Linked DNA regions of Homo sapiens. The protein of the gene in region 2 purifies or fractionates together with the protein of the main gene of each other region. This does not show direct contact. Each region holds a gene or a part of one and is shown on either strand. Other genes may lie near its edges. The genes, in order: FLOT1, SYNJ2BP, TOR1AIP2, ESYT1, CS, TSC22D3 and PRPSAP1.

The links.
Region 1: the proteins of SYNJ2BP (region 2) and FLOT1 purify together in Homo sapiens (co-immunoprecipitation; 2 studies listed by BioGRID and IntAct, with this or other methods). This does not show direct contact.
Region 3: the proteins of SYNJ2BP (region 2) and TOR1AIP2 fractionate together in Homo sapiens (co-fractionation; one large-scale study listed by BioGRID). This does not show direct contact.
Region 4: the proteins of SYNJ2BP (region 2) and ESYT1 purify together in Homo sapiens (affinity purification with mass spectrometry; 4 studies listed by BioGRID and IntAct, with this or other methods). This does not show direct contact.
Region 5: the proteins of SYNJ2BP (region 2) and CS purify together in Homo sapiens (co-purification; one study listed by BioGRID). This does not show direct contact.
Region 6: the proteins of SYNJ2BP (region 2) and TSC22D3 purify together in Homo sapiens (affinity purification with mass spectrometry; one large-scale study listed by BioGRID and IntAct). This does not show direct contact.
Region 7: the proteins of SYNJ2BP (region 2) and PRPSAP1 purify together in Homo sapiens (co-immunoprecipitation; 2 studies listed by BioGRID and IntAct, with this or other methods). This does not show direct contact.

Annotation. Positions count from the first base shown.
Region 1 is NC_000006.12:30,729,949-30,732,687, forward strand, and holds part of FLOT1 (flotillin-1), read right to left. Parts: intron 1,153-2,739; coding exon 971-1,152; intron 780-970; coding exon 734-779; intron 618-733; coding exon 480-617; intron 239-479; coding exon 74-238; intron 1-73. UniProt on the Homo sapiens protein: May act as a scaffolding protein within caveolar membranes, functionally participating in formation of caveolae or caveolae-like vesicles.
Region 2 is NC_000014.9:70,372,091-70,375,590, forward strand, and holds part of SYNJ2BP (synaptojanin-2-binding protein), read right to left. Parts: intron 1,042-3,500; coding exon 901-1,041; 3' UTR 1-900. Other genes in the region: SYNJ2BP-COX16 protein, read right to left, coding at 943-1,041. UniProt on the Homo sapiens protein: Regulates endocytosis of activin type 2 receptor kinases through the Ral/RALBP1-dependent pathway and may be involved in suppression of activin-induced signal transduction.
Region 3 is NC_000001.11:179,850,304-179,853,803, reverse strand, and holds part of TOR1AIP2 (torsin-1A-interacting protein 2), read left to right. Parts: intron 1-992; 5' UTR 993-1,138; coding exon 1,139-1,172; intron 1,173-2,440; coding exon 2,441-2,959; intron 2,960-3,500. UniProt on the Homo sapiens protein: Required for endoplasmic reticulum integrity. Regulates the distribution of TOR1A between the endoplasmic reticulum and the nuclear envelope as well as induces TOR1A, TOR1B and TOR3A ATPase activity.
Region 4 is NC_000012.12:56,141,721-56,145,174, forward strand, and holds the end of ESYT1 (extended synaptotagmin-1), read left to right. Parts: intron 1-564; coding exon 565-705; intron 706-857; coding exon 858-1,012; intron 1,013-1,114; coding exon 1,115-1,213; intron 1,214-1,296; coding exon 1,297-1,428; exon of another isoform or gene 1,429-1,507; coding exon 1,508-1,613; exon of another isoform or gene 1,614-1,805; intron 1,806-1,859; coding exon 1,860-1,909; intron 1,910-2,102; coding exon 2,103-2,142; 3' UTR 2,143-2,954; downstream 2,955-3,454. UniProt on the Homo sapiens protein: Binds calcium (via the C2 domains) and translocates to sites of contact between the endoplasmic reticulum and the cell membrane in response to increased cytosolic calcium levels.
Region 5 is NC_000012.12:56,279,831-56,283,330, reverse strand, and holds part of CS (citrate synthase, mitochondrial precursor), read left to right. Parts: intron 1-339; coding exon 340-471; intron 472-722; coding exon 723-911; intron 912-3,500. UniProt on the Homo sapiens protein: Key enzyme of the Krebs tricarboxylic acid cycle which catalyzes the synthesis of citrate from acetyl coenzyme A and oxaloacetate.
Region 6 is NC_000023.11:107,765,788-107,769,287, reverse strand, and holds part of TSC22D3 (TSC22 domain family protein 3), read left to right. Parts: intron 1-3,500. UniProt on the Homo sapiens protein: Protects T-cells from IL2 deprivation-induced apoptosis through the inhibition of FOXO3A transcriptional activity that leads to the down-regulation of the pro-apoptotic factor BCL2L11.
Region 7 is NC_000017.11:76,312,448-76,315,916, reverse strand, and holds part of PRPSAP1 (phosphoribosyl pyrophosphate synthase-associated protein 1), read left to right. Parts: intron 1-2,025; coding exon 2,026-2,096; intron 2,097-2,900; coding exon 2,901-3,047; intron 3,048-3,469. UniProt on the Homo sapiens protein: Seems to play a negative regulatory role in 5-phosphoribose 1-diphosphate synthesis.

The DNA.
Region 1 (2,739 bases), on a different chromosome or scaffold from region 2:
TAAATGCTAGGCATACTGTGTCACACAACACAGGAACCTAGCAATTCTCCTCAGCTCCAACCTGAGACCTCACCTGGGAGATGCTCACGCCTGTGAGTCTTTCCACACTCTCTGGCAGGCGAGTTAGAATGTCCAGTACTTCCCCAGTCACTTTGGCTGCCCCCATGGTCCCACTGCCGCTGGACACCAGTGTGATCTTATTGGCTGAAGTCAAGGGACCACTGATCTCCTCTGCCACCTGGCAGGAGAGAGACACCCACTCAGTGCCCATGATCTGACCACATTCCTCATAAAACAACTTACTCTGGGTTTTAAGGTCCTCGTTCCACTGATCATCCTTCCTCACTTTGGTCACTAATAATTCCCACCCCTAATTTAGAGTCCCCCTAGGCTGTTTCTCCCTAAGCCCCTCACTACACCCCACCCCTTAGTCCCTGGTTCTATTTCCTCCTTTCTTGGTGCCCACATGACCTCCAGACCTGGGGCAGCTTCTCTAGCAGCATGTCCAGCTGAGCAGCCTCTTGGTACAGCTGGAAGGCTTCTGCCTTCTTGGCCATCTGCTCAGCCTCGGCTCGGGCTCGGGCCCCTATGGCAAAGGCCTCAGCTTCCCCACGCATCTGAGGGTTAAGGATGCTTGTGAGATTGACGGAAATCATTAAGAACAAGAAATCCCCGATCAAGCAGCAACCCCCACCCTCTCCACAAGCCAGCATGGAACTGCCTCTTAACTCACCCGCACAGACGCGGCTTCTGCCTCCGCCTGCATAATTAGTTGGGACCTGTGGACAGAAGGGAAGTGGAGGGTGGAGCCCAGCAGCCCTTACTCCCAGGAGAAAGGCCCAGTGCTGCAGAGGCAGACGCTCCTGAAACCTGAAATCCATAGGAGTCCAGGTGGTGAAGGCTTCAGCACTCCATCTTGGGGTGCCTAGGTGGCAAGTGAGCTAGGCAGGGTCAGGGAGGGGACATTTACTTCTCTGCCTCGGCTAGGCGCTCCAGCTTGTAGCGCTCCGCTTCCGCTGGCTTCCGCACCCGGGCCTCCAGCTCCTTCTCCCGCCGGGCGATCTCCTGCTCCTGCACTGCCACCTGCTGGGCCCGCTCCACCACCTGCACCTGCACCCGCTGCTCCTCAATCTGCTGCTTAGTCTTGGCCACCTGGGTAGGAGGGTGAAGTCAGGTTCACGCTCTGAGTCAGAGGTGAAGAGCAAGTGCCCGGGAACCAGAGCTCCAGAGTGGGATATAAAAATAGGAGCCGGTGGCCGGGCGCGGTGGCTCACGCCTGTAATCCTAGCGCTTTGGGAGGCCAAGGAGGGTGGATTGCCTGAGTTCAGGAGCTCGAGACCAGCCTGGCCAACATGGTGAAACCCTGTCTCTACTAAAATACAAAAAATTAGCCAGGTGTGGTGGCGAATGCCTGTAGTCCCAGCCACCCGGGAGGCTGAGGCAGGAGAATTGCTTGAACCTGGGAGGCGAAGGTTGCAGTGAGCTGGGATCACGCCACTGCACTCCACCCTGGGCAACAGAGTAAGACTCCATCTCCAAAAAAAAAAAAAAAAAAAAAGGAGCAGGTGCATGAAGGTGGGTTCCCTCCTGTCTGCTTGGCCAGTCCAGTGGAGTCCAGTGTTTCTCTGATGAGCCCCCGTTTAATCTATTTTTCCCACGTGTGCCCCCTTCTAGAGTATAAATACCTTGAGGGCACTGAGCACATGTTGGCTTTCTGCTATCTCCAGTCTTGCTCAAATCCCCCCACTGTTGCTGCGATAACCTTAGTGCTAGCCTAGGCTACTGCAATAGCTGACTTATTTTTTGTGGGGGTGGGGACAGGTGATCTTTTTTGTCTTTTGCACATGGTGCAGATTTAACAGAAAAAAAAGTGAACCACGAGGCTTCTTCCTCATTCTCCAAACCACCTGGGTCCCTTTCCCAGAGAAACCACCAAGACCAGCTTCTTGTGTATCCTTCCAGGGATACTCTGAACATCTACAAGAATGTGTGTATTCATAGAATTCCTCTTATTTAGGCAGATTTCTTTCTTTTTTTTTGAGGCAGTTTCGCTCTATTGCCCAGGCTGGAGTGCAGTGGCACGATCAGCTCAGTGCAACCTTCACCTCCCAGGTTCAAGCTAATCTCTTGCCTCAGCCTCTCAAGTAGCTGGGACTACAGGCATGTGCTACCATGTCTGGCTAATTTTTGTATTTTTTTTAGTAGAGACGGGGTTTCACCATGTTGGCCAGGCTGGTCTCAAACTCCTGATCTCAAGTGATCCATCCGCCTCAGTTTCCCAAAGTGCTGGGATTACAGGCATGAGCCATCGCACCCAGCCTAGATTTCATCTTCTTATTCCTTGCAGTGTGAGGGAATCAGAAGGCTCTTATCAAGATGCTAGTGAGGAGAGGTGCCAGGCAAGGAACACATTTTTTTTTTCTTTTTGAGACATCATCTTACTCTGTCACCCAGGTTCAATGGCGTAATCATGGCTCACTGCAGCCTTGACCTGCCTGGGCTCAGATGATCCTCCCGCCTCCCCCTCTAGAGTAGCTGGGACTACAGGTGTGAACCAGCACACCCGGCTATTTTTTGTACTTTTTGTAGAGACAGGGTTTTCTATGTTGCCCAGGCTGATCTCAAACTCCTGGGCTCACGTGATCCACCTGCCTCGGCTTCCCAAAGTGTTGGGGTTACAGGCATGTGCCATCACACCCAGCCAGAACACATGCCTTCGTTGTCCCATTGCTCAGGCTC
Region 2 (3,500 bases):
AATATTGTTCTTCTAAGATTTTTAATTAGTTGCTTCAGTTATTACATTTTTTTCTATTTTTTTTTTAAATAGAGATGAGGTTTTGCTATGTTGCCCAGGCTGGTCTCCTGGACTCAAGCAATCTCCCACTTCAGGCTACCAAAGTGCTGGGATTTACAGGCATGAGCCACCTCTCCCAGTCTCAGTTATTATTTTAATAAATGAGACTGAACGTCCTCTTATAAGGCTCACTCCCTTGTTCCTACTACATTTGCTCTGTTTAAGTATCTCTTTAAATTCTTCAGTTAAGATCATCCCTTTTATCAGAAACCTAGACACCACAAAGTAGCTTTCTCACCTTTAATTCTCCATAGGGATCACTATTATACTATAATATTTGCATACGTATGTGTATATATGTATTTGCTTTTTTAAAAAAGTAAAAATGCTCTTCTCACTCTTTGTCGATATAGGCACCCAGGTACGTAGTTAGAAATTAAATAAAGGCCACAATAATTTCCCAAGGAAGATCATTAAAAAGAAAAATCCTTTCTTCCTCTAATATCACATAGCTGGCCTTTATGGCATGCCAGCTAAGAAAAAAGGTATTGCCTATGGTGACAGGAAGACTCAATCTTTCTCTCTTTGGGTTGTAGCTGAATTTCTATCAAAAGTCCTAGTAAAATATATAACTCCTCATTTGTTCTAAGCCAAGTCTTTTCTTCAGTTTTCCTTCAAACAATACCTTTACTTTCCCATTAGAATATGAAGAATTGGAGACTGTGAACAGCAAGGTTTGGGGTGGGTATCAGTCACTTCAAATCTGGCTATGCAGAGAGAGGGAAAGACATGGCAGAATAGCAGGGGTGGAGGGTGAGTGAAATGTATCTTCATTGGGAGTATTGAAAGAGAGCAAGTTTTTCAAAGTTGTTGCCGGTATCTCATGAAAGCCCAGGCTGCTACCATGGTGAGGGCAAACACTGGCACCAGCACCATAAATATGGGAATACCACTTGGGTCCCCTTCACCTCGATGTCCTATAGGTCCATTCTGCACCTGTAACTGGAAGGGAAAGAAAAATGTTAACTCTAGTGACTAATGTGTGTTTGCAACTGAAACGCCCAGGTTGATACATCACCTGGGTTTGTAGACTCTAGACCACCCAAAACTGTAACCCCCAGCAATACCTAGCAGAAGGAGTCCTCTCTTTGTCCTGAGCTGATGCATCAGTGTCACAGGATCTTTGGAAAGAAAATAGGTCTAATGGGGAGGCATTTAACCTTGCTGACCTAAAGGGACCCGTGAGGGCAAGTCAGGTAATTTCTGTTTCTGTACTGCCTCTACCTTGCTATTTGTGTATCGTATCAGGAAAATGAAGACATGAGATAAAACCTATGATCTTATAGGGAACTTGGATATTACTTGGTGAGGAAGAAGGGGGATCTTTCTGGAAATGTTTACTTAGATAATCAGTCATCAAAATGTAGTAAGAGCAGATGTGGGCAATGTCAACATAGGTGCAATACCAACATACGTCCAATGCCATTACTTGAAAAATGCTTTCCAGATCCCAGAAGGCACCCAACTCCCTCCAAAGATGGGGTTTTGCCCTTCATCTGCTCATTTCTAATACTAGAGAGAGATGAAGGTGAATCTATATGGAACAGATGTAAAAAAGCAAAAAGAAATTATATCCTAGTGCTTATAATTTTCTATTGGCTAAGTGTTTCCTTTTGAGGCTGGATGGTCTTCATTTTAGTGATGGTTTTCAGGGTAGCTCTTCTTAATATCAACTTTTAGTGGCTAACTTGCAATAATTATGGCATCATCGTATTTCAGTTAAACTGCCTCATTACAACTCATAAAACTGACACTTCAATCTGAAAGGCAAGACTGCATGAAATACCATTATACCCTCTATTCCACCTCTATGTTTTTCATTCATTTGCTGATGAGCTGTCCTGAAAGGACATGCTCAATAAGAAGGCATGGTTTTTAGGGCTAGGCCAATTGCCTGAACATAAGGGTCTTTTTTATTAGGAATTATTTATGGATGTTTCCTTAAAAGTGAACACTGGAAATAACTTCTCACATACCTTCCAAAAGAATTGTAATCATATTGAAGTGTGTCCCTATATTTACTTGTTTTTATCTACTGCACAAATGCTCCCATGCTTTAGAAAGAGAAGAGCCAAGGCAGAAGCAACTGATGACCAATATTATCTCTTATTAACCTGTTTTCTAATCCATTACACCCAGATTCTGCTTGCAACTGGTTGTTTTCTCAGGTATCTTTCACGTTCTGCCTTCTCTACTTTTTTAGGAACTCCTCTAAATGTTCTTAAGCTTCTAAATCCTTAGCCACTGAGTGAGGAAGAGTGCACCTATTTAAGAAGTAGCAAATTGATTTAATTTAAAGGCACATGGAACCTGTTTTGTGAATATGCTCAGAAATTCTCAATGCTATAGGAGGAATTATATCTACCCAGGCTTCCCTTTACATCATCATCCAAATTATAAAACACTTGGAAATAAGAAACAGATGCAGGGATAGGTGCTGCCTTGACTGAATTCTGAATTCCATTTCCTTTTTCCTGGAGTTCTCCTATGAACACTAAAGATTTGGTTAAGAGGGTCACCAAGTTGATAAATGAAGGGTTCATGGCAGTGACAGGGAAAAGCATATAGTGGGTACCAGAAAACCCACCATCTTTGTAGTGTTTTATCCAATGGTTTTATAAATAAGTTTTCAGCGGTAGACATATGGTTCCTTCCCTACCAAAAAGTAAAATTGGCTACGTTTTTTTACCATCTTTTTAATTAATTAATTTATTTATTTTCCATTGGTCCATGTCACTCTTAAAATTTTTTATTTATTTTTATTATTATTTTTTTAAGAGATGAGGTCTCTCTATGTTGCCCAGGCTGGTCTTGAACTCCCGGGCTCAAGCAATCATACCACCTTGGCCTCCCAAAGTGCTAAGAGTACAGATGTGAGTCACCACACCTGGCTTTTCTTTAATCATCTGTTTTAATTTGGTTGTCAAGCTTTATCTTTAAGGCATATTATCTTGAAGCAAGGACCTTGGTTATAAGCCATACTGTTGTGAATTTCTCTTTTTTTTCTCTTTTTTTCTTTTTTTTTTTTTTGAGACAGGGTCTCACTCTCTTGCCCAGGCTGGAGTATAGTGGTATGATCTTGGCTCACTGCAACCTCTACCTCCTGGGCTCAAGCAATCCTCCCACCTTAGCATCCCAAGTAGCTGAGACTACAGGTGTGCACCACCGTGCCTGAATTTTTTGTATTTTTAGTAGAGATGAGGTTTTGCTATGTTGGCCAGGCTGGTCTCGAACTCCTGGCCTGAAGTGATCCGCCCACCTTGGCCTCCCAAAGTGTTGGGATTACAGGTGTGAGCCACCGTGCCTGGCCTGAATGTCCTTCAATGATAAGCAGAAGTACCAATGGACCCCTCCCTTTGCCTGAGAAACTCTTCAGGGGAGTGAGGGTAAAACAAAAAGCA
Region 3 (3,500 bases), on a different chromosome or scaffold from region 2:
TACATTCATTTATTTTTTCATAAGCTTTTAAGTTAAAATATGGAGTTCTTACTATACACTAGGCACCGTGTAGGCATTGGGGATCAAAGTTTTTAATGTGTAAATTTAAATTTTACAAAAGAGTACTGAGAAAAACATAAAGACGGCCAGTTGGCTAGCCTTCCAGCTAGGCTGTCAAAAAACTATAACACTTCACACAGGTTTTTCTTATATATTTTTGTATTTAAGCCTCATAGATATCATTATTCTCATTTTCATAGGGAATAAATATTAAGTAACTTTATTGATCAATTTGTTTTTGACAAAAAAAAGAACTATAAAATATGACTGTTTTTATTGCTTATAAAGTGCCTTTGATTTTGATTCCTTTTGTGTAAACCTTAATAATTTTCTTTGTCTGTCTTTGAGCATTGCATAAAAAGGCATTGTATAAAGGAATATCTGTCTCCATATTTTACAAAAGAATACTTCGAGAAAACCACTTCAAAGTCAGTCCAAATGTGTAGTGGTACACCTCAAAGCAGCCATCTCAGTTTGTGGGAACCTCCTGTGCATTGTTACTTTTTAATATAAGTGAAAGCTCCTGATAGGCAGACTATGAGAAAATTATCTGGGACAGAAATTGAAGACATCCAGGAAATCTGCAGTGATTGTTTCAGCAATGACTTAAATTTCTACTCTTAGATTTATTTTTTATTTTAATTCAAGCTAGTCTGTTGAAGATTCTGGTCACTTGATCTTACTTTTTATACTCTTTCAACTATGCTGGAATATATTAGATTATGAAATTCATGAAAGATTAATAATCTGGAGCTTTTTTCAGTAGTCTAGGATTTGGAATATGATTCTCATGAAAGGAAATTTTCTTCACGAAAAAAGTTTCACAGAGGAAATAGTACTCAAGCTACACATATTTAATAAATAAAGCTGATACTTGCATTTCTCCCTTGTATGGATAAAAAGTCATTTAATTTTTTTTCATTTTGTTTTAGTCACTGTATATATGCCTTATTTCCTGGGTCCATGGGAAGCATGAGTCTGTTGGGACTTGGGACAAGAAGAAAACAAGACATCTTCACAAGGAAAACCAAGTACTAAAAAAAGTATCCTCCCAACTCTGAAGAGATAGAACACAAACATGGCCGACAGTGGACTTAGGGAACCTCAAGAGGGTAAGACTGATTTGTCTGGCACTGAGGTTGCTGCTGTAGGAAACCAGGGGTGTGCAGAGAGAGAAAATCTCTGATGACTAAAATCTGAGGTTTTGAAGTAAAAAAGCTAATTCAGTGGGTTCATTTGTTTTGATTATACTTATTCTTTCAAATTTACTGAATTTTACTATAATGCGAGACCCTAATTATAATATAAGGAAGATAAATGTTTTAGAGACTCCAATAGTAAGGACTTATAGTAATGGAAAAATACAATGCTTCTTTAAAAAATGATGGTAGACAAATCTTTAGAGTTATATATATCCTGTGATGTGCTATATTTAGAAGGTATCTTTCTTCTTCCTCTTCTTCTCCTTTTTTTTTTTTTTATGTTACCCAGGCTGGAGTGCAGTGGCGTGATCTCAGCTCACTGCAACCTCCGCCTCCCGGGCTCGAGTGATTCTCATGCTTCAGCCTCCAGAATAGCTGAGATTACAGGCGCCTGCCACCACACCCAGTGAATTTTTGTATTTTTAGTAGAGACGGGGTTTCACCATGTTGCCAGGCTGGTCTTGAACTCCTGACCTCAGGTGATTCACCTGCCTTGGCCTCCCAAAGTGCTGGGATTACATGCATGAGCCACCACATCTGGCCATTCTTACTTTTATTAAAGAAACAAAGTCTTTTGGAATTTCCCACGTGCTGGGTTTTGCTGATTATATTCTTGAGGCATAATTTAATGTATTCCTGTATCCCTATATTTCTTGGAAACTGGTTGCTCTAGAAACTTACCAGATTTAAGTTTAGTTGTTTGGCAAAAATACTTCCCAAGTGGTCTAGAGTACTTCTTACTGCATTGTATTAGAAAGTAAATGATATCTGTTTGGGTTTCCCTGTTTTCATGATGTGAAGATTGGTCGCTGGGTTCAGCAGTTGTCAGTCTGGCTCATCCACTATAAAAGTCCCTATCAGCCTTTTGCATAAGGTTTTGCTACCATTGATGAGCATTGCCTTTCATTAGGGAAGAGGATATATTTAATATAGCCAAAAGTTTGTTCTGTCATATAATTTGTTTTATATTAGTGTCATTTTATATTTATTAACATGATAAGATTTTTTTTGTTGTTGTTTTAATTGCCTTTAGTGGGAGCCAAGAGAAATAATGTTTAGGAAGTGTCTTGTAAACCATGAAAATCTATGTAAATATTATTATTAAACAGGGACCTTGTTAAAATATAAATTTATGGGGAATTTTTTCCAATAAAAATTATAAACTTTTATCTCAATAGACTCTCAAAAGGATTTGGAAAATGATCCATCAGTAAATTCTCAGGCGCAGGAGACCACAATCATAGCAAGTAATGCTGAAGAAGCTGAGATCCTACACTCTGCCTGTGGTCTTAGCAAAGACCACCAAGAGGTAGAGACAGAAGGTCCAGAAAGTGCAGATACAGGTGATAAATCAGAAAGTCCAGATGAAGCAAATGTGGGGAAACATCCAAAGGATAAAACAGAAGATGAGAACAAGCAGAGTTTTCTGGATGGCGGAAAAGGGCATCACCTCCCTTCAGAAAATCTGGGTAAAGAACCCTTGGATCCAGATCCCAGCCATTCTCCAAGTGACAAGGTAGGAAGAGCAGATGCACACTTAGGGAGCAGCTCTGTGGCCCTCCCTAAGGAAGCGAGTGACGGAACTGGAGCATCTCAGGAACCACCTACTACAGACTCCCAGGAGGCCCAGAGTCCTGGTCATTCCAGTGCAGGGCAAGAGGGTGAGGATACACTGAGGAGGCGACTGCTGGCCCCAGGTAAGAGAACCCCCTGAACTACTCTCCTGTTTTGTACTGCTCTGTTAACTGAGAACACAGCAGAAGTCAGAGGCCTTCTTTCCAGAGAACTTTTGTCATCTTTCATAGGAGTAAGGCCTTTGGGCCTTGCCCAAGCTCACACCAAGCCATGACTGAGTTGATTTTAGAATGAGGTTTCTCATCTAGGCTAGCTCATTCCACTATATTAAGTTGCTTCCTACACATAAACTGCATTTCTAAGCATGTTTTTATTAACTGTTTATATTAATGTGATATGACAAAAAGGGGCATGACTTTTAAAAAATTCGCTTCTGGTTTTTTATTTCTTATGAGAATATTTCGACTTACAATTTTTAAAATCTTTTACTTTTTGGGAAACTAAATGTTACATAAATCAAGAGATGGGTATATTTAAAAATGAGCATTAATGGGACAGTATCCTTAACTCAGTCATGTTTCAGTTTTATAGGACTTTGAGTAAGACAGTTAGTTTCTCTATACGTGGTTTTTTCTGCCTATATGTTAAGAGGAACAAGCATGT
Region 4 (3,454 bases), on a different chromosome or scaffold from region 2:
CAGAGCGAGACTCCGTCTCAAAAATAATAATAATAATTTCTGAAAGTTTATGAGGTAAAGATGGTCCACTCTACTCTGGTTAAGAAAGGAAGGACAGGCCAGACACAGTGGCTCACACCTGTAATCCTAGCAATTTGGGAGGCTGAGGTGGGTGGATCACCTGAGGTTGGGAGTTTGAGACCAGCCTGACCAACATGGAGAAACCCCAGCTCTACTAAAAATACAAAATTGGCTGGGCGTGGTGGCAGGTGCCTGTAATCCCAGCTACTCAGGAGGTTGAGGCAGGAGAATCGCTTGAACCTGGGAGGCGGAGGTTGCGGTGAGACCAGATCACGCCATGCACTCCAGCCTGGGCAACAAGAGCGAAACTCTGTCTCAAAAAAAAAAAAAAGGAAGGAAGGACAGAGGGAGGGACTAGCAACTGTTACCATGGCTTCCCTGCCTTTCTCAAAGGGAAATCTCACCAAACCACCTATGAGTCCAAGCGTTTGGACCTTTAAAACACCAGGATTAACTCATTTGTTGATGCATTCGCCTCTTGATCATGGTCCTGTTGCCCCACAGGTTCGGGGTGAGGGCACTGGCGTGCTGGGCTCATTATCCCTGCCCCTCTCAGAGCTCCTCGTGGCTGACCAGCTCTGCTTGGACCGCTGGTTTACACTCAGCAGTGGTCAGGGGCAGGTGCTACTGAGAGCACAGCTAGGGGTGAGTGACAGGAGATGGTGGGCAGGATGAGAGGGAGGAGGGGAGGGCCTTCACAGGTGAGGGACACCCAGGAGGGTGGGAACAGAGGGCCGTGTCCTTAGAGTGAGGGAACTGAGAGAACTCTGCCCAGCTCACAGCTTTCTTGCCCCTAGATCCTGGTGTCCCAGCACTCGGGAGTGGAAGCTCATAGCCACAGCTACAGCCACAGCTCCTCATCGCTGAGTGAAGAACCAGAGCTCTCGGGGGGACCCCCTCACATCACCTCCTCAGCCCCAGAGCTCCGGCAGCGCCTAACACATGTTGACAGGTAAAGGGCTGGGACAGGAAGGTGGGACGCAGTCAGAAATAAAAAGTATTACAGGTTCACTAGGCTCTAGCTTTCCCCAGACCTACTGATATTTCTCCACAGTCCCCTTGAGGCTCCAGCCGGGCCTCTGGGCCAGGTGAAACTGACTCTGTGGTACTACAGTGAAGAACGAAAGCTGGTCAGCATTGTTCATGGTTGCCGGTGAGACCCCATCCCTCCTGTCCTCCAGATCGCCTCCATCCCTTCCCTCAGGTTACCATATCACCTACATCCTCCTGTTGTAGGTCCCTTCGACAGAATGGACGTGATCCTCCTGATCCCTATGTGTCACTGTTGCTACTGCCAGACAAGAACCGAGGCACCAAGAGGAGGACCTCACAGAAGAAGAGGACCCTGAGTCCTGAATTTAATGAACGGTCAGTCAGTGGGCATTCAGGTGGAGAGATGGCAGGCTTGGAAAGGACTCCTGGCCCCTAACATCCAGTCCTACCCCAGGTTTGAGTGGGAACTCCCCCTGGATGAGGCCCAGAGACGAAAGCTGGATGTCTCTGTCAAGTCTAATTCCTCCTTCATGTCAAGAGAGCGTGAGCTGCTGGGGAAGGTAAGAGGGCAGGATGGCAGGGCAGAGGTGAGGGCTGGAAGCTGCTGGCACCAAGGTTATAGTCCCTGTGAGGAAGGAAGTACCCCACGTGATCCTTTAGAGGTGACTCACCTCTGCAATGGTTTGGGACGAGTATGTGATGAAGGAACATGGTCTTTGGAGATTTCAAAACAGCATCATCAGAATGAGATCCTGTCTCAAAAAATAAAAGAAATAACATCTTTCCCCTATCATCTTCCAACACAGGTGCAGCTGGACCTAGCTGAGACAGACCTTTCCCAGGGTGTAGCCCGGTGGTGAGTGTCTGCGTGGGTGGGGGATGGTCTGGATATTTCAGTGGGAGAAATTCCAATCACAGGAAAGGAAAAAAAGATACAATCTGAGCAGAGAACCATTGATTCTATCAAGTAGAGAAGCCCTTGGATCGTGTCTCATTTATAAATATGATGACACAAGAGTCATCTTTCTACATGAGCCCTCTTTTCACAGGTATGACCTGATGGACAACAAGGACAAGGGCAGCTCCTAGGAGCTGGCGAGTCCCAGCCTGACTGCTCTGTCTTCCTGCCTTCGTCTCGCTCCATCACCGCCTCAATGTGATGAGCCTAAAGCTAGGGTCCAAGGGCAGAGCCTGTGCCCTTCAGCCCTTTCACCTAACAGGCCCATATTCGGGCCTTTGCCTGACCAAAGAGAAGAACCGTATGTTCCCTTTACTGCACGGCCTTTATCCTTCTGGGCCCCTGGGGCGGGGACCTGAGCTGGCTGTTTCCTGCTTTGCCTGCACATTGTTCTCCCTTCCTCCCAACTCCTCAGGGCCTTCTGTATCTGTGCCTGGCCAGTGGCAGCACTAGCAGTGGTATTAGCTTATGCCAAATACAGCTTTGGAAGGATCTTTTTTTCTTTAACTAGATGGTCACCTTCTTCCCTACCACACATGGGTGGGAAGGTGGACAGGCTAACCTCTCCAGCTGTGAGCCTCTTAGACTACTGCATGTAGCAAATGTTCAGCAGCTCAGGCCCCCATGTCCAGTTCTGTCCCCACTGTCCTCAACCCTGTCCTGAAAATTCTACTGCTTTGATGGCTGGGGCCAGTCTCTTGTCACTTTGGAAACTGAGGACGCGTGGATTCTACTCAAGCCTCCAAGTAGTGGCATATCAGTCTTGGAGCTCCTAGCTGGTGATACGGAGAGGGCTTTGGAGGACTTGGGACAGCAGGGCCAATTTTTTTGCCCAAGTGCCTAGGCTGCTAACTCACTGACTAGAACTTAATCTGGTACTTTACAGTTTTGCACCAACTCTGCCAAGCCACTGGATCTTACATTAAACATCATACTCAAACCAGCTGTGGTTCTTTTCCTTAAGGATAGGGAATCAATCTACCCATCTGATGTTTATTCCTACTGTCAAAAGCCTTTATCCAATTCGTGAATCATGTCAGTTTAATTAATGGTCAAAGCCTACTAAGGTTGCAGCCACCAAGAATGTTGAGGATGGTCAAGAGACCTGTGTAAAGTAGCTGCTGTTGCATTTCAGGTGAGACTCATTTCCAGTCACAGTGATGAACTCTGTTACCCATCCAACTTGTCTGCTGACCACTATAGGCTTTCCAGGGAAGGGATTCCTAAACCTGGTAAACCTGGGAGCTCTGTGCCACTGCACAGGCTCCTGGTGTCTCTGTGCCACTGCACAGGCTCCTGGTGTCTCTGTGCTGTCAGGGCATGCTCAGCTACATTCAAAAGGGCTTCAGGCCCATCTAGCAGGAGCTGAGAAATACACCCATTTCGATCATCTGTACACCTTGAACTCTGCTCCTTGCAAGAACTTTCCTGGAATGCAAGCTA
Region 5 (3,500 bases), on a different chromosome or scaffold from region 2:
CGGAGTTTGCAGTGAGCCGAGATCGCACCACTGCACTCCAGCCTGGGCGACAGTGTGAGACTCCGTCTCAAAAAAAAAGAAAATTAAAAATTGTATTCTGGGCTAGGCATGATGGCTTGCCCCTGTAATCCTAGCACTTTTGGAGGCCAAGGTGGAGCATTGCGTGAGGCCAGAAGATCGGGACCAGTCTGAGCAACATAGCAAGACCCCACCTCTACAGAAATAATAATTAACATAAAAAGTTCTACTCTAACTTGTTGTAAGGTCTGATGAGTAAGACCAGTCGTGTGACTTCTAGGCTATAAACTTGAGTTGTAATTCTCTCTCTCCTCTCTCAAGGGCATCCGTTTCCGAGGCTTTAGTATCCCTGAATGCCAGAAACTGCTACCCAAGGCTAAGGGTGGGGAAGAACCCCTGCCTGAGGGCTTATTTTGGCTGCTGGTAACTGGACATATCCCAACAGAGGAACAGGTAAAGCAGAAGGATATTATTAGCTCTTCTCATTCCCCTTCTTCATTGCCTTTCTCTAATCTCAGACACTTAATGCTGATCCGGCATTTATAGAGATGCGTAGTGAAGGGAAGGAATCAGCAGAGTTCTGCTGTATAAATGGATTGGGTTGACCTCTCTTGGGTTTTCTTTACTCAGATGTTGCTGTCCTTTTTTATTTTTCTCCTTCCTTGTCCTTGCTGGTGTTCTGAGCACTGTCTCTTTTTCCACAGGTATCTTGGCTCTCAAAAGAGTGGGCAAAGAGGGCAGCTCTGCCTTCCCATGTGGTCACCATGCTGGACAACTTTCCCACCAATCTACACCCCATGTCTCAGCTCAGTGCAGCTGTTACAGCCCTCAACAGTGAAAGTAACTTTGCCCGAGCATATGCACAGGGTATCAGCCGAACCAAGTACTGGGAGGTAGGAAATTTGGGTGGGGTGATCGGTGTGTGATGGGGATTCAAAGGACTTGAGTGTGAAGGGAGGGAAAAAATACAGAATCTTTAGAAAAATTACCTCTGAGTTAATCAGAAACTAACTTAACAGATTTTCATTGGAGGCTTGTTTTTTGTCAGTTGTTGGAATTACAAAGCTAAGTAGAGCATGGTTTCTATCACCAGGACTGTTTGTTTGGTTAGGCTGACACACGTGCAGAAAAAAGAAATTATTAAAATTCCATAGTCGGCCGGGCACAGTGGCTCATGCCTATAATCCCAGCACTTGGGGAGGCCAAGGCGGGCAGATCACGAGGTCAGGAGTTCAAGACTAGTCTGGCCAATATGGTGAAACCCCATCTCTACTAAAAATACAAAAATTAGCCAGGCGTGATGCCGGGCGCCTGTAATCCCACCTACTCAGGAGGCTGAGGCAGAAGAATCACTTGAACCTGGGAGGTGGAGGTTTCAGTGAGCCGAGATCGCACCACTGCACTCCAGCCTGGGCAACAGAGTGAGACTCCATCTAAAAAAAAATTCCATAGTCTTGCTGTAACAGAGGTATGTACACATGGCTGTTGAAACGGAAAAGAGACCTAGGTAGGTGGCTCACACCTATAATCCCAGTGAGTCATGATGCTGAGGTGGGAGGATTGCTTAAGGCCAGGAGTTTGAGATCAGCCTGGGCAACATAGTGAGATCCTATCTGTACATAAAAAAGGAGAAAACAAGAAAAGAAAAGGATGTGACTTAACTGCAGGGTCCCTGAGGAAGGTTTCACAGAGCAGTCTCATGCTAGCACCAGAGGGTCACTTTCCCTCACTATCTTCTTCAAATACAGAAAACTTTGAGAAATCTTACAAGTTGGGAGAACAGCAATTGCAACTCTGGAGTCTAGGAGGACTAATGCCAGTCAGTCATGTTCTCGGCTAGCCAACCTAAGATACCCATCAGGAGTGGGAGAGTGGTTAGTATCCTTGGAGTAGGCTCCAGATCCAGAAACAAATGAGCTTTATTCTCTGAAAATGAAAAGTGTCCTTAATAGTTTACAACGCTGGTTGGGGTATGGAAAGATTGTTTCTTATCCCAATGCATAGTACATAATTCCTTCCATCCTCTTCTAGTACCCCACAAACTCAGAAACACTGGGTAAAAGTACAAATGATCTGGCTAGGTTTACAGGAGAATGTACCATTTTCTTTTGTTCCTTATTTGGAGATAGGTAGTATAGGAACAGAAAATTTTCTTTTTACAAAGCAGGTACATTAAATGATTTTTGGCCAGGAGGTGCCAGCCACCAGGAAGGCCCTAAAGAGTTCACTGTGGTGCAAGACACAGAAGAGCATGACCCACTGCTCTGATGCAACCACCTTGGGTCCTTGGCAAATCTAGATTGATTTAGTTGGTCAATATTAATTTGGCACCAACTGTGTGTAGAGAATTGTGTTTGCAGTTGAGGAAGACAGAGAGCATTTAAAATTGATATTAACTTGGTTGGCATTGGGGAGTTGGTATCAGAATGATGCAAAATATACACATTCACACCACATAAAGCATTTATTTATAAAGGCTTATTTATAAACACTTTAGGTGGTATGAATGTGTATATTTGTACCTGCACACATTAGCAGGTACAAAAGGTCATATAATCTTAATATTTTGTTTTTCATTTTATTTATTTATTTATTTTTTTGAGATGGAGTCTCGCTGTGTCACCCAGGCTGGAGTGAAATGGCATGTGAACCACCGTGCCCAGCCATTTTTATTTTTATTTTTTTAGAAATAGGTCTCTCTCTAATCACCCAGGCCAGGATGCAGTGGCATGATCATAGCTCACTGTAACCTTGAACTCCTGGACTCAAGTGATCCTCCTGCCTCAGCCTCCCAAGTAACAAGGACTACAGGCACATGCCACCATGTCTAGCTGGCATTACAGGCGCACACCACCACTCCTGGCTAATTTTTTTGTTTTTTTTTTTTGTTTTTTTTGGGAGACGGTGTCTTGCACTGTCACCCAGGTTGGAGTGCAATGGCACGATCTCAGCTCACTGCAACCTCCACCTCCTGGGTTCACACAATTCTCCTGCCTCAGCCTCCCGAGTAGTTAGGATTACAGGCGCACACCACCACACCCAGCTAACTTTTTGTATTTTTAGTAGAGACAGGGTTTCACTATGTTGGCCAGGCTGGTCTCGAACCTCTGACCTCGTGATCTGCCCACCTCGGCCTCCCAAAGTGCTGGGATTACAGGCTTAAGCCACCACGCCTGGCCTTGTCTTTTTAATAGAGTTTCACCATGTTGGCTAGGCTGGTCTAGAACGGCTGGTCCAGAACTCCTGACCTCAGGTGATTCGCCCACCTCTTCCCCAAAGTGCTGGGATTATAGGCGTGAGCCACCACCCTGGGCCTTTTTGTTTGTTTGTTTTGTTTTGTTTTTTGAGATGGAGTCTCGCTCTGTTGCCCAGGCTGGAGTGCAGTGACACAATCTCAGCTCACCACAACCTCTGCCTCCTGGGTTCAAGCGATTCTCCTGCCTCAGCCTCCCCGGTAGCTGGGACTACAGGTGCGCACCACC
Region 6 (3,500 bases), on a different chromosome or scaffold from region 2:
GATATACCTCTTTTGCTTATCCATTCATCTGTCAGTGGACACTTAGGTTGTTGCCCTCTTTTGGCTATTATGAAGAATGCTGCTATGAACACTGGTGTACAAGTATCTGTTCAAGTCCCTGCTTTTAATTCTTTGGGGTATATACCTAGGAGTGGCATTGCCCAGCACCTACTTTTCAACACAATTTTGTGGTCTACTGCTCGTAGTCAACACATACGTAGGAACCTGTCATAAAATGAGCAAATGTCTCAGGGCATTCCTTGAGGAGAATGCTCCCTCTCTAAGCCAGCTGCTGGTGCTAGTGATTACAACGAAGAGAAAGCTACAAAGTTTGGCAAAGTGATGGTGCTGCCTGGGAATGGACTTTTTATGGGGGAAATGACATGCTTTGGAGATTGCATCCATGAGTTGGAGACTGGCAAAAGTTTTAGTGTGTATCTCTCATGAATGGCCAAGGTCTAGCATACCTTTTTAAAGAGTAACATGTGACACCATTACTTGCCATTAACTACTTTGTATGGATTTGTTTATCAGACCTCTGGTCATGGTGACAGCCCACTGGGAATAGGGTCCTATGGGACTGGAATGTGGCAAAGCCAACTTTGGAGGAGAGAGGTAGAGAGATGGGGCTGGAGTCCATGGAAGGCCTAGCTTGGGCTGTTACAGCACGGGGCCTGGACAGCATGAGAGTTCAAAAGATCTGTTTGGAAAGTTCATGCTCTTAAAGAAAGGTGGGAAGCACAGAGCTTGAATTTCATCTACTCCTCAGTTTTTGCCAGGAGTGGACTATTATTTACTGAGTCCACACCTCAGCAAATAATGCTTTCCAGGGTGACCTTAGTTTTCTTCCCTGCCTGAAGAGAAGGTTAACACTCCTGCTTATATTTGCACTTGCAGATAATCCAACAAGCTCTCCATTCCAGGTAGAGGGTTGGCTCCTTTCCAGATCAGGTACTGAAGGCCAGGGAGTCTGGGTAAAATGGAGATGGATGTATCTGGCCAAGACTGCCAAGACCTCTAGGCATCCCGGGTGATGGAACCCTGCAGAGTTCTTGCCCCCACCTGGTGGGTGGGTTGGTTGGGAGGAATGAGTTTGGCCATGTCTGCACCTGGTGGTGGCTGTTGCGCTGTTTGCTCATCGTGATTCTGCTCCTACCTGAACTTTCTCTTCTTCTTATGTAAGCCATCCCTAGAGATAACTGTAAAGCCATAATCTGCCATGGCTGGCTGGGCTTATATAACAAATTGGTTGGTATCGTGCAATAGCCTCTTGAACCCTGGAGAAACCAATGTGCTAAGTTGAGACTAAAACATGGGTTCATTTGATGGGGTATTTTGTGTGCTCAGTGAACTCAGGGGAGAGGAGTCCATGACCACAGGGGTCAGAAAGATGAAATTTCCTTTTAAATAAAGAGAACAATAATGGCCCAGAACATACTGTGCTGTCCCAAAGTCTGCAATAATGGGACAAGGGTTAGGGCATTGCTGTAGCACCACAGCTTTGGCAGAAAAGGCCCTCCACAGAACCCCATGGGCTAGGAGGAGCCCCATGAAGGCCAGAAGGCTAGATCCCAGTTTCAGGGCAACCTAGGTTTGATGAAGAGTCAGGTCAGGGAAAATGTCTTTTGGAGGCCACTGTCTACCATGCTGAAATCCAGCTTAACTAGAGTTGGAGTGGGGCTAAGATGCGATCTGTGAGAGCAGAAAGCAAGCTTTTCTCGATTCTATTCCAGGCAGGAGGGAATTTCATCAGTAGGCAAGGCAAGTTCACTTGTACCTTCTAGCTGAAAATTCCTGCCCCAAAGTAGCTGTGGCCCTTCTGGAAACTGTATAAGAGGCATTAAGATCCCAGCCAGCACAGAAGACTGAATGGGAAGCTTCCCATTGTGCAGACACTAGCCCGAGGGAAAACAAGAGCTGGAAGCAGGCTGGATCACTGATGATCCAGGCTCACCATTGGCCTTCCTCTCCTGGGAGCCACTTTCCTCAAATAGGTCCAGCCAGAAATCGGGCCCCTGCCTATGGACAGAGCACACAGGGACCTTCCCCATCCTTCCTCGAAGGAAGACTTTACTCACAGAATAGGCTTGAGTATTCAACCCACTTCTTCTAATCTTCTCTTCAGGGGAGATGGAGAGCAGCTGTTCACAGCTTAGGGGTCTGGCCAGGATTCCCGCTCCGTGCTATCTAGGCTGGTGATTGGCTAGAGCTATCCCTAAGGAAGAAGGGGGTGAGAAGTGAGAGGAAAGGAAGCGACTCCAGCAGCTCCTTCCTGGCTTACCCCACTCCCAAGACACCCCTCCTTCAGCGCTGCCGTTTAGCCTCACTCCCAGACTAGGCTGGGCCTAGGCCAGCCTGAGGGCCCTGACTCATAACTAGCACATCTTATGTAACAGCCAGGTTACTGAGGCATCACACTTCTGCTTGCTCAGTGGTAGGCTTCCCTGGGGACAGGCATTTGGAAGCCTGCTGGGGGTCCAAGTCAAGCTCATCATACTTCCCAAGGAAAAGCCTACTCTCCCCAGTGTCAGGCAAGCAGTCTGCTCAGAGGCAAATGCCAGGCAGCAAAGCCTGACCCGGTCCCACACTCAGCCTCCACACTCAGCAGTAAATGTAAGCAGACAGGCAAGCTGGAGTGGACTTAATTTGGCTTGAGGCATTTTGGAGGTGGCAGGGAGGAACCTACTATCACCTGATAATGCACTGCTAAAGAAACTGCGTGGTGCATGGAGAGGCCCCAGAACAGGTCGCAGAAGTCCCTCTTCCTTTTGTATCTGCTTGTTGGTTCAGAAACTACTGGGTGGGTTGGGGTGGGGGGAGTTGTTGGGGGGGGGGCGGAAACTCCAGGCTGACTGACACCAGGTGAAAGGGTTTACCGGAAGGTGGAGGAGCTGTTTAAAGGAAGGCCTTTCAAGAGCCAATTCCCAGTCCACGCTCCATGAAGTCTCAAAGTCCCCAGGTTGACCTGAATTCACAGTGATTCTTAGCTCTCTGCCTGGCCTATTCAGAAAATTACATTACCGGCTTAGTGGAACTGAGCCCCCAGTGAAGTCAGTATTGCCAGATTCTATGACAGATTTCTCTAATAACAAATGTGACTATCTACAGCACAGAATACCCCCATCAATCTAATATTCCACTAGCTCAAGGTTTGTAACTAAACCAATAGCTCCTCTTCTTCTCTTCCTTTGTCTTTTCCCCAGCCTGTCTCACGTGTGTTGCCATCAAGTAAATGGCTCACAGGCTGTGAGTAGGTGGGGACACTGCTCTCCACTCCAAGAAATAGAGGAGAAACAGGGAAACAAAGTCAAAAAGGTGGTGTGGGAATTACCAGCAGGCATGATTTGTATCCAAAGCTGACTCATAAGTTCTTGGACAAGCTCAAGACTACCATCTCAGGGCTCAGAAGAGCTTGGCACCCTTAGTCCCCCAGATCACAGAATCCAGTGAAAATTAGGGGACCTGAGATGGAGATGCAGAATTTTCCTTTGTGGGACTCC
Region 7 (3,469 bases), on a different chromosome or scaffold from region 2:
TGGTGAAACCCCACCTCTGCTAAAAATACAAAAAATTAGCCAGATGTGGTGGCACGTGCCTGTAATCCCAGCTACTTAGGAGGCTGAAGCAGGAGAATCGCTTGAGCCCAGGAGGCAGAGGTTGCAGTGAGCCGAGATCGTGCCACTGCACTCCAGCCTGGGAGACAGAGTGAGACTCTGTCTCAAGAAAAAAAAAAAAAAAAAAAAAAAAAAAAAGCGGATAGGTCAACATAACTGCGTGTTTACATGGTTTAATTTAAAAACAGAATCTCAGGAAGCTGCTCCTAATGTTGGTGGTTTGAAACCCCCCTCCCCCCATTTTAAGTGATTTTATATGCAAAGCCTTCTTGTCTTGCCCAAATTCAAGAAGTTGTCTTTGTTTCTAGGATGTGAAATCAGGAAATATATGTTTGTTGAAATGTATAAAGTAGTGGTGAATTTCAGCTCAACTGATTTGCCAGTATACAGAGAAAAACACCTGTTCTTTGAGATACACAGTGCCTGTTGGGAATCTGCAAAAATTGTTTGTTGGTAGTCACTAAACTCTTGTTACCCTGAATTTTATTCTCTTTCGCTTCCCCCACTACTAGCCTAATAAATATTTCAGAATAATAACAAAGTTTAAAGAAAGAATACTTAGCCTGTTCTTCTGAAGTAGTCTTTGTTTTTCTTCTCTGTTTACTAACCTCCTTTTGAGGATAAAATCTTATTTCCTTTCTTTATCCTGTAGTTTCCTTTGTACACTCATAGCCTTTCTTCAGATGCAGATTTTGCAGTCAGATAAAAGTCTCTACTTTAAGCACCAATTAAATCAGGAAAAGATGATGGGCCTGGAGTTATTGTCTTCAAGTTCCTGATTTTGAGGAAACTCTGATTATGTCAGTAGTGCAGTTATCTGATAGTAAGGTTACACTGTCCAAATAAGGTGACTTTGGAAGAAAATAACATAAAGCCATCTCATGATCTGGCAGCCTTTCGCTGTTTCGCTTTCTGCAGAGCGGCATTCCTTCTGCATGTCTCTGTCAGTCTCTGTGAGAGTGGGGTTTCTATCCACACAGCACTGCGGTGCAGCTTCTCCGTGTTGGCAGAATCTTCCATGCTCTGCTGGTTCGTTGTCTTTCCAGCTGTGCTGTGCAGTGCAATGTGCTGGCTGCTGAGCTCATGAGACACGGCCCGTCTCAACTGAGAAGTGCTGTGCGTATAAAACACACACCAAGTAGAGAAGACTTGATAGGAAAAAAGTGTAAGGCTGGGTGCGGTGGCTCATGCCTATAATCCTAGCACTTTGGGAGGCTGAGGTAGGAGGATTGTTTGCTTCCAGTTTGAAATGAGCCGGGGCAACATAGCAAGATCCCCTCTGAGAAAAAAAAGTGTAAAACATCTCATTAATTTTTATATCAGGTTGGGCGTGGTGGCTCAAGCTTGTAATCCCAGCACTTTGGGAGGCTGAGGCGGGTGGATCACCTGAGGTCAGGAGTTCGAGACCAGCCTGACCAACGTGGAGAAACCCCATCTCTACTAAAAATACAAAACTCAGCTGGGTGTGGTGGCGCATGCCTATAATCCCAGCTACTCGGGAGGCTGAGGCAGAATTGCTTGAACCTGGGAGGCGGAGGTTGCAGTGAGCCAAGATCGCGTCATTGCACTCCAGCCTGGGCAACAAGAGCAAAACTCCGTCTCAAAAAATACATACATACATACATACATACATACATTTTTATATCAGTTACATGTTGAAATTATAATATTTTGGGAATTGCATAAAATAAAATGTATTAATTTCATCTGTTTTTAATGTGGCTACTAGAAAATTCAAAGTAACATGTATGGCATGCCTTCTATTTCTTTTGGCCAATGCTGCTGTTTCTGAGAGATTGCAGGTTCATTGAGGGGGAATTTGCATGGTTTGTTTGTTTTTTGTCTGTATAGTGGTTTTGCCACCATTTCCAGGGAATTAGGTTGTGATTACATTTCTCTAGTGATACATGAATGACTGAGATCTTGTAATTTGTTTTGTTTTGCTAGTGATGATGGCCAAAGAGAAGCCACCGATAACTGTAGTTGGAGATGTTGGAGGCCGCATCGCAATCATCGTGGTATGGTTATATGTCATCCATGTGCAGAGGTGGCACTCCTGGCTCTTGGTCAGTAGGTTGTCCACTCTGGGACTGTATTTCTAGGAACGATGATCCGAATGGATCCATGTATCCTTTCTCACCCAAACTCCCTTGTGCCAAGTGGCAGAAACCTGTATCCAGGTGAACATACATTAAAGTATAACCTACAGATAGGAAATGAGCACAGTACTCCCGTGAGAAAATTCAGCACCTTCACCTTCATCATGTGGATTCTAGGTTCTTTAAACCAGCTCACCTAATCATGCTTGAGCGTTAGGGCCGAAAGATGAACTGAAGATGAGCTGTTCCGTTTTCACAAGTAAGAATGGGTGTCCCCGTGCAGACTCGTTCTGCATGTTGACATACTTTTTTTCCCAGCTCTAAATATCTGCTGGCTAGTGGGTCATGAGTCCTTTGCAGTAGCACACTTTATTTCAGTTTTCTTCTCATGTCACAGTCTATTTGAAAAAAAAATAAATGGAACGCTGGCTATGTGGGATTCACCAGAAACGTGAGACAGGAAAATGAGTGTTGGCAATCCTCAGCTCCAGCCGTAATGTCACAGGTGCTTGACTGCGCCCGCCTCTGACAGACACACAAGGTACTGTCAGGTGCTTCTGTTGCCATTTCTGGATGCTCGTTCTTTGACCCAGGCACACAGCTCTGATTTTCCATCAGAAATCCTCTGAAACTGAGTGCAGAAGAGAGTAGAGTGGTGTGTGCATTGACAGTATGGGCTAGAGGGTGTTTCTTTCCTACCAACTCACTCTGTTCTCCTCCCAGGATGACATTATTGACGATGTGGAGAGTTTTGTTGCTGCCGCGGAGATCCTGAAAGAGAGAGGCGCCTATAAGATCTATGTTATGGCCACCCACGGCATCCTGTCTGCAGAGGCCCCTCGCCTGATTGAGGAGTCCTCCGTAGACGAGGTCAGGCTGCTTCTAAATCTTGAGCCAAGATTTACTGCTGTGTTTTCTGGGAATAATAAAATGATTCAGTCAATACTAAATTGCTTAATCTGTCTATAGCTTTTCTAGCTTTTGCTGGCTAGCAGTTCGTTGGGACAGATACATGTTTAGGAATACAGATAGTCCACGACTTACCATGGTTCAACTTAGAAGTTTTTGACTTTATGATGATGCAAAACCATTGCAATTACGATGTAATGTATAGTATTCGATAAATTACTTGAGACACTTTATTTTAAAATAATCGCTTTTATTATAAAATGAAAGCCTTTGCCCTAGATGATTTTGCCACCTGCAGTCTAATGTAACTGTTCTGGGCATGTTTAAGGTAGGGCTAGGCCAAGTTAATGATGTTTAGTAGGTTAGGCGTATTAAATGCTTTT